Linked DNA regions of Homo sapiens. The protein of the gene in region 1 interacts with the protein of each later gene in a pairwise test. Each region holds a gene or a part of one and is shown on either strand. Other genes may lie near its edges.

Evidence for each region. Proteins that work in one complex are often made in the same cells at the same time.
Region 2: the proteins of RIDA (region 1) and SPEN interact in a two-hybrid assay, tested with the Homo sapiens proteins (one large-scale study listed by BioGRID and IntAct).
Region 3: the proteins of RIDA (region 1) and DEAF1 interact in a two-hybrid assay, tested with the Homo sapiens proteins (one large-scale study listed by BioGRID and IntAct).
Region 4: the proteins of RIDA (region 1) and TMEM176A interact in a two-hybrid assay, tested with the Homo sapiens proteins (one large-scale study listed by BioGRID and IntAct).

Annotation. Positions count from the first base shown.
Region 1 is NC_000008.11:98,107,172-98,110,671, forward strand, and holds part of RIDA (2-iminobutanoate/2-iminopropanoate deaminase), read right to left. Parts: intron 1,581-3,500; coding exon 1,475-1,580; intron 1-1,474. UniProt on the Homo sapiens protein: Catalyzes the hydrolytic deamination of enamine/imine intermediates that form during the course of normal metabolism. May facilitate the release of ammonia from these potentially toxic reactive metabolites, reducing their impact on cellular components.
Region 2 is NC_000001.11:15,934,707-15,937,831, forward strand, and holds part of SPEN (msx2-interacting protein), read left to right. Parts: coding exon 1-1,560; intron 1,561-2,456; coding exon 2,457-2,939; intron 2,940-3,105; coding exon 3,106-3,125. UniProt on the Homo sapiens protein: May serve as a nuclear matrix platform that organizes and integrates transcriptional responses. In osteoblasts, supports transcription activation: synergizes with RUNX2 to enhance FGFR2-mediated activation of the osteocalcin FGF-responsive element (OCFRE).
Region 3 is NC_000011.10:688,723-692,222, reverse strand, and holds part of DEAF1 (deformed epidermal autoregulatory factor 1 homolog), read left to right. Parts: intron 1-624; coding exon 625-722; intron 723-3,500. UniProt on the Homo sapiens protein: Transcription factor that binds to sequence with multiple copies of 5'-TTC[CG]G-3' present in its own promoter and that of the HNRPA2B1 gene. Down-regulates transcription of these genes.
Region 4 is NC_000007.14:150,799,450-150,803,568, forward strand, and holds the start of TMEM176A (transmembrane protein 176A), read left to right. Parts: upstream 1-1,319; 5' UTR 1,320-1,379; exon of another isoform or gene 1,380-1,483; coding exon of another isoform or gene 1,484-1,519; intron 1,520-1,543; exon of another isoform or gene 1,544-1,911; intron 1,912-2,086; coding exon of another isoform or gene 2,087-2,101; coding exon 2,102-2,275; intron 2,276-2,765; coding exon 2,766-2,876; intron 2,877-3,265; coding exon of another isoform or gene 3,266-3,370; exon of another isoform or gene 3,371-3,950; coding exon 3,951-4,007; intron 4,008-4,119. Other genes in the region: TMEM176B (transmembrane protein 176B), read right to left, coding at 162-169, 573-775.

The DNA of each region.
Region 1 (3,500 bases):
TTGATCTAGCATAATTTATTCAACCAGTTCTTTATGAGTGGATATTTAGGTTTTTAAAAATCTTTCAGCTAGGCCGGGTGTGGAGGCTCATGCCTGTAATCTCAGCACTTTGGGAGGCTGAGGTGGGTGGATCATGAGGTCAGGAGATCGAGACCATCCTGGCTAGCACGGTAAAACCCCGTCTCTACTAAAAATACAAAAAATAAGCCAGGTGTGGTGGCGTGTGCCTGTAGTCCCAGTTACTTGGGAGGCTGAGGCAAGAGAATTGCTTGAACCTGGAAGACAGAGGTTGCAGTGAGCTGAGATCACGACACTGCACTCCAGCCTGGGCGACAGAGCAAGGCTGTCTCAAGAAACAAAACAAAACAAAACAAACTTTCAGCATTATATGACTCAGTAAATGCAGTAAATTATAGTTTATTGTTTTATTTTATTTTATTTTTTGAGACAGTGTCTTGCTCTGTGTCCCAGGCAGGAGTGCAGTGGCACGATCTTGGCTTCCTGCAACTTCCACCTCCCAGGTTTAAGCGATTCTTCTGCATCAGCCTCCTGAGTAACTGGGACTACAGGCATGTGCCACCTGACTGGGTTACTTTTTTTTTCTATTTTTTTTTTGAGACAGGGTTCTTGCTCTGTTGCCCAGGCTAGAGTGGAGTGGCACAATCTCAGCTCACTGCAACCTCCGCCTTCCGGGTTCAAACGATTCTCATGCCTTAGCCTCCCGAGTAGCTGGGACTACAGGCACATGCCACCACACCTGGCTAATTTTTGTATTTTCAGTAGAGACGGGGTTTCACCATGTTGGCCAGGCTGGTCTTGAACTCCTGACCTCAGGTGATCTGCCCGCCTCGGCCTCCCAAAGTGCTGGGATTACAGGTGTGAGCCATTGTGCCTGGCCTCCCCCAACTAATTTTTGTATTTTTAGTAGAGATGGGGTTTCACCATGTTGTCTAGGCTAGTCTTGAACTCCTGACCTCAAGTGATCTGCCAGCCTCGGCCTCCCAAAGTGCTAGGATTACAGGTGTGAGCCACATCGTGCCTGGCCTAAATTATGGTTTAATTATATTTATTGGATTAAAATTATATTCCCCATTCTTATTTTTAAAAATGTTGACTTTTTACTTCTGTGGTGGTAATTTTTTTTTTTTTTTGAAGAGGGGCAGGTCAGTGGCCCTGAGAAGAAAATTTCCCAATCCATGTGGAAGTGGCAACATGTCATCTGACGTCAATAATTCAGGTTTAAGGTCACCTTAGTGTTAAGGAGGTGGAATCTCTCTTTTGGTTGTTAGATGATTCATGATCCATCAAATTTCCAACTCTTAGATCAAAAACTATGTTAAATCAAGCAGTAAGTAGTTTAAAAAACATTTATCTGTTAATCTCTATAAAACAAATCAGGCAAGTGGATTCTTAATGCTCTTCAACATTAAAAAGGTAGTAGAAAAGGGAACCTTAAATGTGGAAAATAACTTACTTGTTTAGCTTCTTCTGCTACCCCTCCTGACACAAGCTGTCCACTTGAAGGGTCCATGCCTATCTGTCCTGAAATGTAAATGGTCCTGTCGACTAATACAGCTTGACTGCAATAAACAGAAAGCTAGTGTATTTATGTAAGTATAAAACATAAAATTCAATGCTAGAAGACTTTTTTGATAGGACAGAGAAGTATAAATTGTAAAAAAAAAAAAACAGATACATTGGACTTCATGAAAATTGAAAACTTTTGTTTATCAAAGATATCTTTAAGAAAATGAAAAGGGGCTGGGTGCTGTAATCCTAGTGCTTTGGGAGGGTGAAGCAGGAGGATCGCTTGGGACCAGGAGTTTGAGATCAGCCTGGGCAACCACTCAGTCTCTACAAAAAACAATAAAAAACAGCCAAGTATGGTGACGCACACCCGTAGTCCCAGCTACTCAGGAGGCTAGGGTGATTGAATTGCTTGAGCCCAGGAGTTGAAGGCTGAAGTGAGCCATGAGTATACCACTGCGCTCCAGCCTCAGTGGCACTGAGTAACAGAGAAAGACCCAAAATAAAAAAAGGGGTCGGGGGAAGAAAAGGCAAGTCATAGATTGGGAGAAAAATATTTGCAAAACATATACCTAATAAAGTACCTATATCCAGAATATAAGAAGAACTCTTAAAAGTCAATAATGTGAAGACAAACCCAATAAAATATGAGCAAATGATACTTCACAAAAGAAAATATACAAAGAGTTAGAGTACATGAAATTTGCTCAACATTAGTAGTCATTAGAGAAATGCAAAGCAAAACCACACACTAAGACATCACTGATAAAGTAAGCATTGGCAATGATGGGGAGCAACCCTCATACATTGTCGGTAGTAATGCAAAATGGTACAGCCACTTTAGAAAATAGTTTGGCAGTTTCTTTAAAAATTTAAACATATATTTAACATACAACCCAGCAAACTCTTCTTTTAGAGACAGGATCTTGCTCTGTCACCCAGGCTGAAGTGCAGTGGTAGGATGTTGGCTCACTGAAGCCTTGACCTCCCAGGCCCAAGTGATCCTCCCATCTCAGCCTCCTAAGTAGCTGAGACTAAAGGTGTGCACCACCATGCCTGGCTAATTTTTTATTTTATTATTTACTTATTTTTATTTTTTGTAGAGATGAGGTCTTGCTATGTTGCCTAGGCTGGTCTCAAACTCCTGGACTCAAGTGATCCTCCTGCCTTGGCCTCCCAAAGTGCTGGGATTACAGGCTTGAGCCTCAACTCAGCAATTTCTTTCCTAGGCAACTATCCAAGAGAAATGAAAACATATGTCCAAAGAGTTTACGTGAATGTTCAGAATAGCATTATTTATAGCAAAAAAGCAAGACACACACACATGCACCCACTGATAGATCCAACAAAGGACTATATATTGTCTTATTTCACTTAAATGAAACCTTAGAAAAGAAAATAGCAGCAGCAGATTATTAATTGTTGTCTAGGGCCAGGGGTGATCATAAATGGGTACAAGGGAATTTTTTGGGAGTGATAGAAATATTCTAAAATTTGACTATTATAGTGGATGCATGATTCTATACATTTACTAAAACTCATGGAACACTACACTTAATTAAAATGGGTGACTTGTTTTTTTGAGATGGAGTCTCACTCTGTCACCCAGGCTGGAGTGCAGTGGCACAATCTTGGCTCACTGCAACCTCCGCCTCCCGGGTTCAAACAATTCTGCCTCAGCCTCCCAAGTAGCTGGGATTACAGGTGTGAGCCACCACGCCCAGCTAATTTTTGCATTTTTAGTAGAGATGGGGTTTTGCCATGTTGGCCAGGCTGGTCTTGAACTCCTGACCTCAGGTGATCCGCCTGCCTCCGCTTCCCAAAGTGCTGGGATTACAGTCGTGGGCCACCACACCCAGCCATTAAAATGGGTAACTTTTATAAGTAACTTATACCTCAATATAGCTGTAAAGCAAAAAAATGCAATTTCAAGAGCACTTTTAAAAACATAAGTAGTCATCTTCAGACAAGAT
Region 2 (3,125 bases), on another chromosome or scaffold:
AAGACCGAAGGCCCACAGCGGATCAGCGCCAAGATCAGCCAGATCCCCCCGGCCAGTGCAATGGACATTGAATTTCAGCAGTCAGTGTCCAAGTCCCAGGTCAAACCTGATTCTGTCACAGCATCGCAGCCTCCATCCAAAGGCCCTCAAGCTCCTGCAGGCTATGCGAACGTGGCCACCCATTCCACGTTGGTACTGACCGCCCAGACATATAATGCCTCTCCTGTGATTTCGTCTGTGAAGGCCGATAGGCCATCCTTGGAGAAGCCCGAGCCCATTCACCTCTCGGTGTCCACGCCTGTCACCCAGGGAGGCACAGTGAAGGTTCTCACCCAGGGGATCAACACACCCCCTGTGCTGGTTCACAACCAGCTGGTCCTCACCCCAAGCATTGTCACCACAAACAAGAAGCTTGCTGACCCCGTCACCCTTAAAATCGAGACCAAGGTCCTTCAGCCGGCCAACCTGGGGTCCACGCTCACGCCCCACCACCCTCCTGCTCTGCCCAGCAAACTGCCTACAGAAGTCAACCATGTCCCCTCGGGGCCCAGCATCCCAGCAGATCGAACTGTCTCCCATTTGGCAGCTGCAAAGCTAGATGCTCATTCTCCTCGACCAAGTGGACCCGGGCCATCCTCATTCCCAAGGGCAAGCCACCCCAGCAGTACTGCATCTACGGCGCTCTCCACCAACGCCACAGTCATGCTGGCTGCAGGCATCCCAGTGCCCCAGTTCATCTCCAGCATCCACCCAGAGCAGTCTGTCATCATGCCACCCCACAGCATCACCCAGACTGTGTCCCTGAGCCACCTCTCCCAGGGCGAGGTGAGAATGAACACTCCCACGCTGCCCAGTATCACCTACAGCATCCGGCCAGAAGCGCTTCACTCTCCTCGGGCTCCGCTGCAGCCCCAGCAAATAGAGGTCAGGGCCCCACAGCGTGCCAGCACCCCGCAGCCAGCCCCAGCTGGTGTGCCTGCACTGGCCTCCCAGCACCCTCCCGAGGAGGAAGTGCATTATCACCTTCCTGTCGCTCGAGCCACAGCCCCTGTGCAGTCAGAGGTACTAGTCATGCAGTCTGAGTACCGACTGCACCCCTATACTGTGCCACGGGATGTGAGGATCATGGTGCATCCACATGTGACGGCAGTCAGCGAGCAGCCCAGGGCCGCGGATGGGGTGGTGAAGGTGCCACCAGCCAGCAAGGCCCCTCAGCAGCCAGGGAAGGAAGCTGCCAAGACACCAGATGCCAAAGCTGCCCCCACCCCCACCCCTGCCCCCGTCCCTGTCCCTGTCCCCCTTCCTGCCCCTGCTCCTGCCCCTCATGGTGAGGCCCGTATCCTCACAGTTACCCCCAGTAACCAACTCCAGGGGCTGCCTCTGACCCCTCCTGTGGTGGTGACCCATGGGGTGCAGATTGTGCACTCCAGCGGGGAGCTGTTTCAAGAGTACCGGTACGGCGACATCCGCACCTACCACCCCCCGGCCCAGCTCACACACACTCAGTTTCCCGCCGCTTCCTCTGTTGGCCTGCCTTCCCGGACCAAGACAGCTGCTCAGGTGAGCCAGCCAGGTATCTCCCCACTGTCTGTTGGGCATGTGCTTGTGGGGCTCAGCAGGCTTTTAAGCCAAGATGTGTGAAAGAAATCAGGGGCCAGGTGTGGTGGCTTATGCCTGTAATCCCAGCACTGTGGGAGGCCCAGATGGGAGGACTGCTTAAGCCCGGGAGTTCGAGACCAGCCTGGGCAACATGGCAAAACCCCATCTCGTACAAAAAAAAAAAATTACAAAAATTAGCCAGGTGTGGTGGCACACACCTGTGGTTTCAGCTACCTGGGAGGCTGAGGTGGGAAAATTGCTTGAGCCCTGGAGGCAGAGGTTGCATTGAACCAAGGTCGTGCCACTAGGCTCCAGTGACAGAGCGAGACCCAGTCTCAAAAAAAAAAAAAGCCGGGCATAGTGGCTCACGCCTGTAATCCCAACACTTTGGGAGGCCAGGGCTGGCAGATCACTTGAGGTCAGGAGTTCAAGACCAGCTTGGCCAACATGGTGAAACTCTGTCCCTACTTAAAGAAAAAGAAATCCGCCTTTTGGTAAAGATAGTGGTTGAGTACAAGTGAACTGGTCAGCTAGTCCCTAAAGATGTTGATCTTTTCATGAGTTTAAAGAGCTTTCTTAGTTCTGAGATGAAAGTATTAGATCACATCATGGGGAGTTCTGCATATGGGGAGGGAGCTCTTGCTGGGTAGCATCAGCAGGAGGCAGGTAATAGGGGATCTCTCCTTACCTGGAACCCCGAAAGCAGCTCCGTTGATTCAGGCTCCTTCTGTGGGCCTGACTTAACGGGAGATGCCACATCTTATCCTTTCCCTGTGGCCCTTTGGGTCATTTGTTGGTCTCAGGGGCTTGTGCACAACAGACTGACTCTGTCCCTTTGCCTTCCTTCCCTACACCAGGGCCCTCCTCCTGAAGGTGAGCCCCTGCAGCCTCCTCAGCCTGTGCAGTCCACACAGCCTGCCCAGCCTGCACCACCCTGCCCGCCCTCCCAGCTCGGTCAGCCCGGCCAGCCACCAAGCAGCAAGATGCCTCAAGTGTCCCAGGAGGCAAAGGGGACCCAGACGGGAGTAGAGCAGCCTCGCCTCCCAGCTGGACCTGCAAACAGGCCACCTGAGCCTCACACCCAGGTTCAGAGGGCACAAGCAGAAACAGGCCCGACTTCCTTCCCCTCCCCTGTGTCTGTCTCCATGAAGCCTGACCTTCCAGTCTCTCTTCCCACTCAGACTGCCCCAAAACAGCCGTTGTTTGTCCCAACAACCTCTGGCCCCAGCACCCCACCAGGACTGGTTCTGCCACACACTGAATTCCAGCCAGCCCCCAAACAAGATTCCTCTCCACACCTGACTTCCCAGAGACCCGTGGATATGGTTCAACTTCTGAAGGTAAGCATGAGCAGGGGCTGCCCTTCCTGGCCCCCAAGTTTTATGCCATGTCAAATGTCCTAAGATTCCCTAGTTAACAGACCCACAAGCTACAGCCTCTGGCTGTGTCCAGCATGGCTCAGCGAGGGGCCATGAGCTCACTTCCTGTTTGTTTCCCTGTGAGCAGAAGTACCCCATCGTGTGGCA
Region 3 (3,500 bases), on another chromosome or scaffold:
GAAGGGCCTGTCTGCATGCCAGGGGGCTGAGTTCCATGTTGTAGGGGGTGCGGTGGGGTGGCACCAAGGGACATAGGCAGGTTAGATGTACTTTTTAGGAGGAAGGGGTCAGAGACCAAGGGCAATGGCTGTGAGCATGGGGCCGAGGTCACCTGACGATGGTGGCCTGACCCCTGCGGTGGAGGAGAGGCAGGAATGGAGCTACAAGAGTGGGTCCAGGAGGTGTCCTCACCTGCGGGGAGGCCGAGAGCTCCTCGTAGGCATAGGGCACACCTGACCAGCAGAACCCACAGCTGTGCCGCAGAAGGAGATAGAAGCCCCGTGGTGGTTTGATAGAGCTGGGGCTGGCTGGGGTGGCGGGTTTGTTGTATGCATTTTTTACTGCACGTAAAAGGCTTTACTGGGGAAGAATAGATTTCCTCTCTTTTTCCTGGAAGAGCCGAATGACTTAGACAATGGAATAGAAATGTAGGTCGAGCGTGTTCATGGAAGTGTTAAGATCTTCCTGGTTACAAGGGCACACACCTGAGGGGGAGTCACTTTGTTTGAAGCACCTGAGCGAGGCTGTTCGCTTTGTCCATTCTGGCTTTTGTTGCTTGTTAAATGAGGCTCCTTCTGTTGCAGAGGTGACCACAGTGACAGTGGCCAACGTGGGGGCTGCTGCAGACAATGTCTTCACCACGTCTGTGGCGAACGCGGCATCCATCTCAGGACATGTTCTGGTAAGCTGCTCCGAGGGGCACAGCCCAGGGCGGGTGGTGCCACGCTGGGGGCCTCCGGCTTCCCCGAGGCTCTCCCGGGGTTCAGCCCGCTGTGTGAACGTCTGCTCTGTGAGCTGGGGAGGGACGCACTGGCTCGCTCTGCTCTCAGAGGCCTTCGGGCTGTGCTGGAGGTGGGAGAAATTACAGCTGAGGTAGAAGCTGCCTCGGAAGGCCAGGTGAAGAGCCACACCTGTCAGATGGGCTTGTGGCCTGCGTTGGGCAGGGACTCCCAGCAGGCTGCTGTCCGGCCACAGTTCAGCCTCTGCCCGAGGCCCGGCCCTGCCTGTGCTCCTTATCCTATAGCTGCAGGGCCAGCTGAAAGAAGCAAGGCGTTTCCCTCCCCCATATCCTGTTCTCGTAGCATTTATGGTGCAGTCTCCCACGCCTGACTGCTGTCTACTTAGAAAACTGCTGAAAGCCAGTTGCATTTCAAATAGTGTCTGTGCCACCTTCAGAGCCCTTTTGTGATCATGTTTTATCAGCTTATTTTATGTTTTATGTGTGGGGCCTTCGGCGATCTGGGGACATCTGGTCAACCAGGGCAGGCAACCTTGTTTCCAAGTGGCAGATGCCAGGGTGGGTCCAGTCTCCAGAAAGGGATTTTCCCTGGGACCATTGGCACCTGTTACTTGTAGTCTTTTCAGCCTTGGTCACATACCTGGGACATCATCTCCATATACCTGAAAGCAGAGTGGTTATTTGTTTGTTTTGTTTTTGAGACGGGGTCTTGCTCTGTCACCTAGACTGGAGTGCAGTGGTGCAATCTCGGCTCATTGCAACCTCCGCCTCCTGGGTTCAAGCCATTCTTGTGCCTCAGCCTCCTGAGTAGCTGGGATTACAGGCGTGTGCCACCATGCCAGGCTAATTTTTGTATTTTTAGTAGAGACAGGTCACCATGTTGTCCAGGCTGGCCTCAAACTCCTGACCTCAGGTGCCCGCCTTGACCTCCCAAAGTGCTGGGATTATAAGGATTATAGGTGTGAGCCACCACACCCGGCCTGAAAGCACAGTTATTGTTAGAATGGCAGCAAACAGAAAACTTGTGAAGGACTTCAGTAAAAACATAAGAAACTTGGAAACCCCCTCCCCTGCCCTCCCCTCCCCTGCCCTCCCCTCCCCTGCCCTCCCCTCCCCTGCCCTCCCCTGCCCTCTCCTCCCCTCCCCTCCCCTGCCCTCCCCTGCCCTCCCCTGCCCTGCCCTCCCCTCCCCTCCTCTCCCCTCCCCTCCCCTTCCTTTTTGACAGAGTCTTTCTCTGTTGCCCAAACTGGAGTGCAGTGGAGTGATCTCAACTCACTGCAACCTCCACCTCCTGGGTTCCCCATGTTGTCCAGGTAGTCTCAAACTCCTGACCTCAGGTAGCTACCATCTCGGCCTCCCAATGTGCTGGGATTACAGGCATGAGCCACCGCACCCAGCCCAGAAACTTGGCTTATTTCTGGTGGGTGTGAGAACACACACAAGCTGACCCATGGCCACGTGGCGATCTGTGTTTTCAGTCAGGCTGCTCCTTCCTGGCAGTGGGGTCTGGGCACCTCCTCATTTCCTAGGAGGGGCTGAAGCCCAAGGCACCTGTGGGTGCCTGGAACGTGCTGACGTCATGGAGCGGGGGTGTCCTGCAAGTGCCTGAGGCTGGTTTTCTCCCCTCCAGGCCAGGAAGACCAGAGACTGGTGTGTTCCTGTTTGGAAACTGACAACAAAGCGGGGCACGGTCTGAAATAACTGTGTGTTCCCTTCCTAAGAAAAATACTCTGTGACTCTTAAACAAACACAAGACATTCCTTTTCTCCAGTGAAGAGCTGCAGGTCTTTGGTGACTCAGGCACAGCAGTAGGACCCCCTGTGTGAGCCCAGGCGTCAGGCATGTGTGTTGGGGGTCCCTCCACTCCATGATAAACTTCTACTCAAGTGCTCTGATTTGACAGTGACATTTTCAGATGTAGGAAACAGTTGTCAGCTGGGCGCGGTGGCTCCTGCCTGTAATCCCAGCACTCTGGGAGGCCGAGATGGGCAGATCATGAGGTCAGAAGATGGAGACCATCCTGGCTAACACGGTGAAACCCCATCTCTACTAAAAAAAAAAATGCAAAAAATTAGCCTGGTGTGGTGGTGGGCGTGTGTAGTCCCAGCTACTTAGGAGGCTGAGGCAGGACAATAGCGTGAACCCGGGAGGCGGAGCTTGCAGTGAGCCGAGATGGCGCCACTGCACTCCAGCCTGGGTGACAGAACGAGTCTCCGTCTCAAAAAAAAAAAAAAAAAAAAAGAAAAAGAAAAAAAGAAACAGTTGTTTTCTCACTTTGCCTCGGTTGGTTTTGTATTCAGAATGAAAACCTTGGGGCACCCAAAACACGGGGTTCAGAGAGGCCCCTGGAAGTCTCTGGTCTGCCCCACCGTGGGGTGAACAGAGCCTGCAGGCCAGAGTTTGCCGGATGACTTGGCCAAGGTAGGGTTCAAGTTCCAGCAGTGGTGTGTGGGCATGGAGACTCTGGCTTCCTGTGGCGGGGTCTGTGCCGCCTGAAGGCTGATTTTGGAAGCAGGCAGCAGTTGCAGCAGCTTCAGCCAGTGTGGAAATGTGGTTTTGAGGCCCTGGTCTCCAGTTGCCATCTGTAAGGAGGTCTGGAGGGCGGTCCTGCACAAGGCCTTGTCTGTGGCGGCCAACTCGGTCTGTTGGAAACTCTGCATGAAGACGGTGACCTTGTGGGAGCGGCTCAGGTGGAAGGGAGGGTGTTTCTTGTTTGTGGAG
Region 4 (4,119 bases), on another chromosome or scaffold:
AGAATCAGCTTGCCTGGCTCTAAAATAAATCCTGCATAGGCAATTCTAATGGACATCCTGGCTAAGTATCACAGTTTAAATCAAATATTATTAACAATTCTAATAACACCTCCCATTCGTACTCTACCTACTTTTCAAAGCAGTTTCACTCTTTCACCCACCTGGCCTCCTTGGGGTTAGAAAGGACAGGAGTTAGACAATTCCGCACACGTACAAAGGAGCTTCAGACTGCTTCCAGCCCAGCCCCAGATTCCAGCCAGACCTTCCCTTGACGGCCCAGGCCTCGCCCTGAGGGCACCTCGGGTTCCAGCTACCTCCGGGCCCCCAGGACCACCGCTTCCCCCGCCCCACGCCAACCCCTAGATCTGCCTCGCCCCCGCCTGAAGAGTCGGATCTGAACCAGGCCGGCACCACGGAGATTCCCCTGCGGGCCGCCCGACGCCTGGTAGGTGGTGGGCTCTTCCCGGCTGCCCCGAACACTTTCCTCTGTCCAGCTCTTCCCGTGCCCCGGGGCTGGGGAAAGCGTCCGGCAGCCCCGCCGCTCCCTGGCCCCGTCCCAGGAGCCACCCCACCGTAGGGCTCCAGCCAGGGTCCAGGCGTGCAGGCGGCAGAAGGTGGACGGGACGCGCCAGCCCCAGGCCTCTCCTCCCGCTCTCCAGCCGTTTTTCTGGGGAGAAACACCTGCACCCAGCTGTCCCTCCCTCCTACGTGAGTCCTCCTGGAAACCAGGTTGGAGGAAGAAAGACGTCCTGTGGACAGGACGGGGTGGGGGCATGGCCCTGGGGACTCCTCGTGACAGAGGGTCCTGCGGCAAGAGGGTCTCCCGGGCCGCGGAGGCCCTGCCTCACCTGCAGTCCTCCGGGAGCCCGCGGCCGAGCAGAGCGGACACTAGCTGACCCCGAGCAGGGGAGCGACGGGAGGGCGGAGACGGCAGATGCACGGGTGGGGGCTGCGGCCCCGCCCAGGCTGCGCGGTTTCCCGAAACCAGCTGCGGCCCGGGGGCCCGGCAAAGGGGGTTCCGCCCGGAGGAGCGGACCGGGCGGGAGAAGACCGAGCCCCCGCGCGCCCCCTGCGCTCCCACTCGCGCACACTTGCACGCCGGCCCTGGCCGGGCGGGGCTGGAGGCGAGAACGACCCCACGGGCTTTCCCAGGGCCGTCCGCCCGCGGACCCTCCCAGCTCCCCAGAGCCCAGTGACCCTCGCGCAGCAGGAGAACCCCAGACGGACCCCAGGCCCTGCAGCCTGTCATGAACCCGAGGGGCTGAAGTTCAGCCCCACCCCCGCCTCCCCTCCCCGCCTCCCCCTCCAACTCTCAACCCACTTCTCCAGCCAGCGCCCCAGCCCTCCCGCCGCCCGCTCGCAGGTCCCGAGGAGCGCAGGTGAGGCGGCACCCCACTCCCGGCGGCCCCCGGGCCTCCTTCCGCACGCACCCCGAGCTGCCTCCGCACAGTTGGAGGAGCGTAGGAGGGACCCCCACCCAGGGATGACACTCCAGGAAGGGGACTGCAGAGGAAGCCAGGTGCGGCCCCGGCTTTTGACCTACCTCCGCACCGCAGCGCGGTCCTTCACGGGGCAGGGGCGGCGTGAACCCGTCGGGCGTGAGCAGCAGTCGGTGGAGCGGGAGGTCGGCGGTGGCGGGGATGGGGGTATCCGGAGCGCAGCCGGGGCGCAGCTGCTGGCACAGGAGCTCCACAGGCAGCCAAGGACTCGGTCCTGTCCCAGAGCCTGCGGACTGTGGAGGGGAGGCCGCAGGAAGAGCCCGGGAGGAGGGGGTGAGGGGTCGAGGTGTGGGGCGCTGCTTGACCCAGACGCCAGGGCCCTGGGAGGAGGATGAGGGGGACAGAGCAGATCTTGGGCGAAAGGGGAGGTTCCCGCAGGCTCTGTAGTCGCCGCAGTTCCAGCATGGTCAGCACCCCCTCTGCTACACACATTCCCCTCGTGAGGGGCCAGGGGTGCGGCCCTGTGACCAGGACAGCCATTCATTGGGTGACTTTGAGCCACCACTGGCCCCTGACCTCCCCAACTCCAATGAAATCTGCGAAAATCTTCTGACAGCCGTTCCTCTCTGGTGCTCCCTTCCTCATAGACTGTGTCCCTGACAATGGGAACAGCCGACAGTGATGAGATGGCCCCGGAGGCCCCACAGCACACCCACATCGATGTGCACATCCACCAGGAGTCTGCCCTGGCCAAGCTCCTGCTCACCTGCTGCTCTGCGCTGCGGCCCCGGGCCACCCAGGCCAGGGGCAGCAGCCGGCTGCTGGTGGCCTCGTGGGTGAGTGTGACGGCCTGCCTCGTCGGGCGGCGGGAGGAACTCCCCACCTCCAGCCGCAGCAGCACTCTCTGCCAGCCTCCCTCTGAACAGGACACCGAGCCAGTTATGTCTTCTTACTTAGCGATGTGATTCTCTGGCCTTCTCAGTAAGAGCCTGGGGAGGGGAGGCTCTGGGCTGAAGGGGTGTGGAGGAGCCACTGACCATGCAGAGTCCCAATCAGTGGAGCCCTGAGTCCATCCTTTCCTCTGGGCCAAACTCAGGATGGGCCGGCTCTCCTCTCCTTCCTTTCCCTTCTCTTTTCTCCTCCTCCTGCCTCTTCTTCTTTCTCCTTCTCCTCCTCTTTCTTCTCCTTTTCTCTTCTCTTCTCTTCTCTTCTCTTCTTTCTTTCTCTCTCTCTCTACCTCTCCCTCTCTTTTTGGGGTTTTAGCGGTTAATCCCTGCAGTGGCAGGTCCACCTAGGAGCCGGGATCTTGGGTCCTTTGTCTTTCAGGTGATGCAGATCGTGCTGGGGATCTTGAGTGCAGTCCTAGGAGGATTTTTCTACATCCGCGACTACACCCTCCTCGTCACCTCGGGAGCTGCCATCTGGACAGGGGCTGTGGTGAGTAGAGCAGGACAGTGCTTGACTGCCTGTGAGAGGGGTGGGGCATTGCTCTCCTGATTGCCTTCCTCCAACATGGCGCCACAGAATGCTGGCAGTCGGAGAGATCTGATTATCTAGGACCATTCCCTGCCTGTTCAGATGAGCAAACAGCTGAGGGCGGTGGTGGCATGTCCTATTCACACTGTCTGCTCTCCCATACCCTTCCCAGTGCTGTTCCCACCAGGCTGGCTGCCTCTCCCTGCCTTCAACAGTTAATGTCAACTAAGGATCTAAGGACCTGCTCATCTCCAGATACTTGCATTGAGATGGGGAAGGCAGAGCGTTCCAGATAGTATGTGGTCCCCCAGGAAGCATCACCCCCTGGTTATTCTCATTGTCCTCCACAGGCCCTGTACACAATGGAAACCCAGGAATTGTTGTCAACAGATGGGTGTGTGCAGTTTGCACAGGAGCTGGGTAGGCTGGTCATGGTACCTACACTCTCAGAATAGCACTAAAACACTCATATTTACTGACAGAAGCCGAGAGTAATTACCTTCACCCAGCCTGTGGCAAAATACCCAGCTTAATTACAGAATTAGCCAAACAGGATTCAGGTCCACCTGTCCACTGGGACATACTAGATTTCCTGTTCTTCAAGCCCAGCTGAGTGGATTATTGGGCACTGTTAGGACAGGCTTCTAGACCTAACAGTGCCCACTCTGTATAGACTCACCCTTCATTGAGATCTTCTCCAGCACCCCATGACTTTTATCCACAGGATCCCACCATCCCTAGAACTTTCATAAAGCACTTGGTGTTGTTTAAAAAGGAAGGTTTAGAAGGGAAGAGGGGCTCACACCTGGCTTGACCACAAGCTCTTAGGTGTCACTAAAGCAGGGCCTTTTGCAGCCTCAGGAGTTGGATCCAGGCTCCACCCTCTCAGCAATTATCTTACCATGGATAATAAAGCTTAGCATGAAACCTCCCGCCCAAGCTGTGTGCTGGGGAAGGGCCTGCATGGAGGCTCTCTCGTGGGAGAGGAGTTGCATTTCCTGTACTAAGCCTGCTCCTGGCTCAATCTCTCCCCAGGCTGTGCTGGCTGGAGCTGCTGCCTTCATTTACGAGAAACGGGGTGGTACATACTGGGTAAGTTCAGGGAAGGGCATGGGAGGGGACCAGGTTCAGGCTGGAGGTCACCCCAATCTCCTGCCCTGTTGCAGGCTTCTCTGGGCCTTGCCCTTTTTTCCCCCGACTGGAC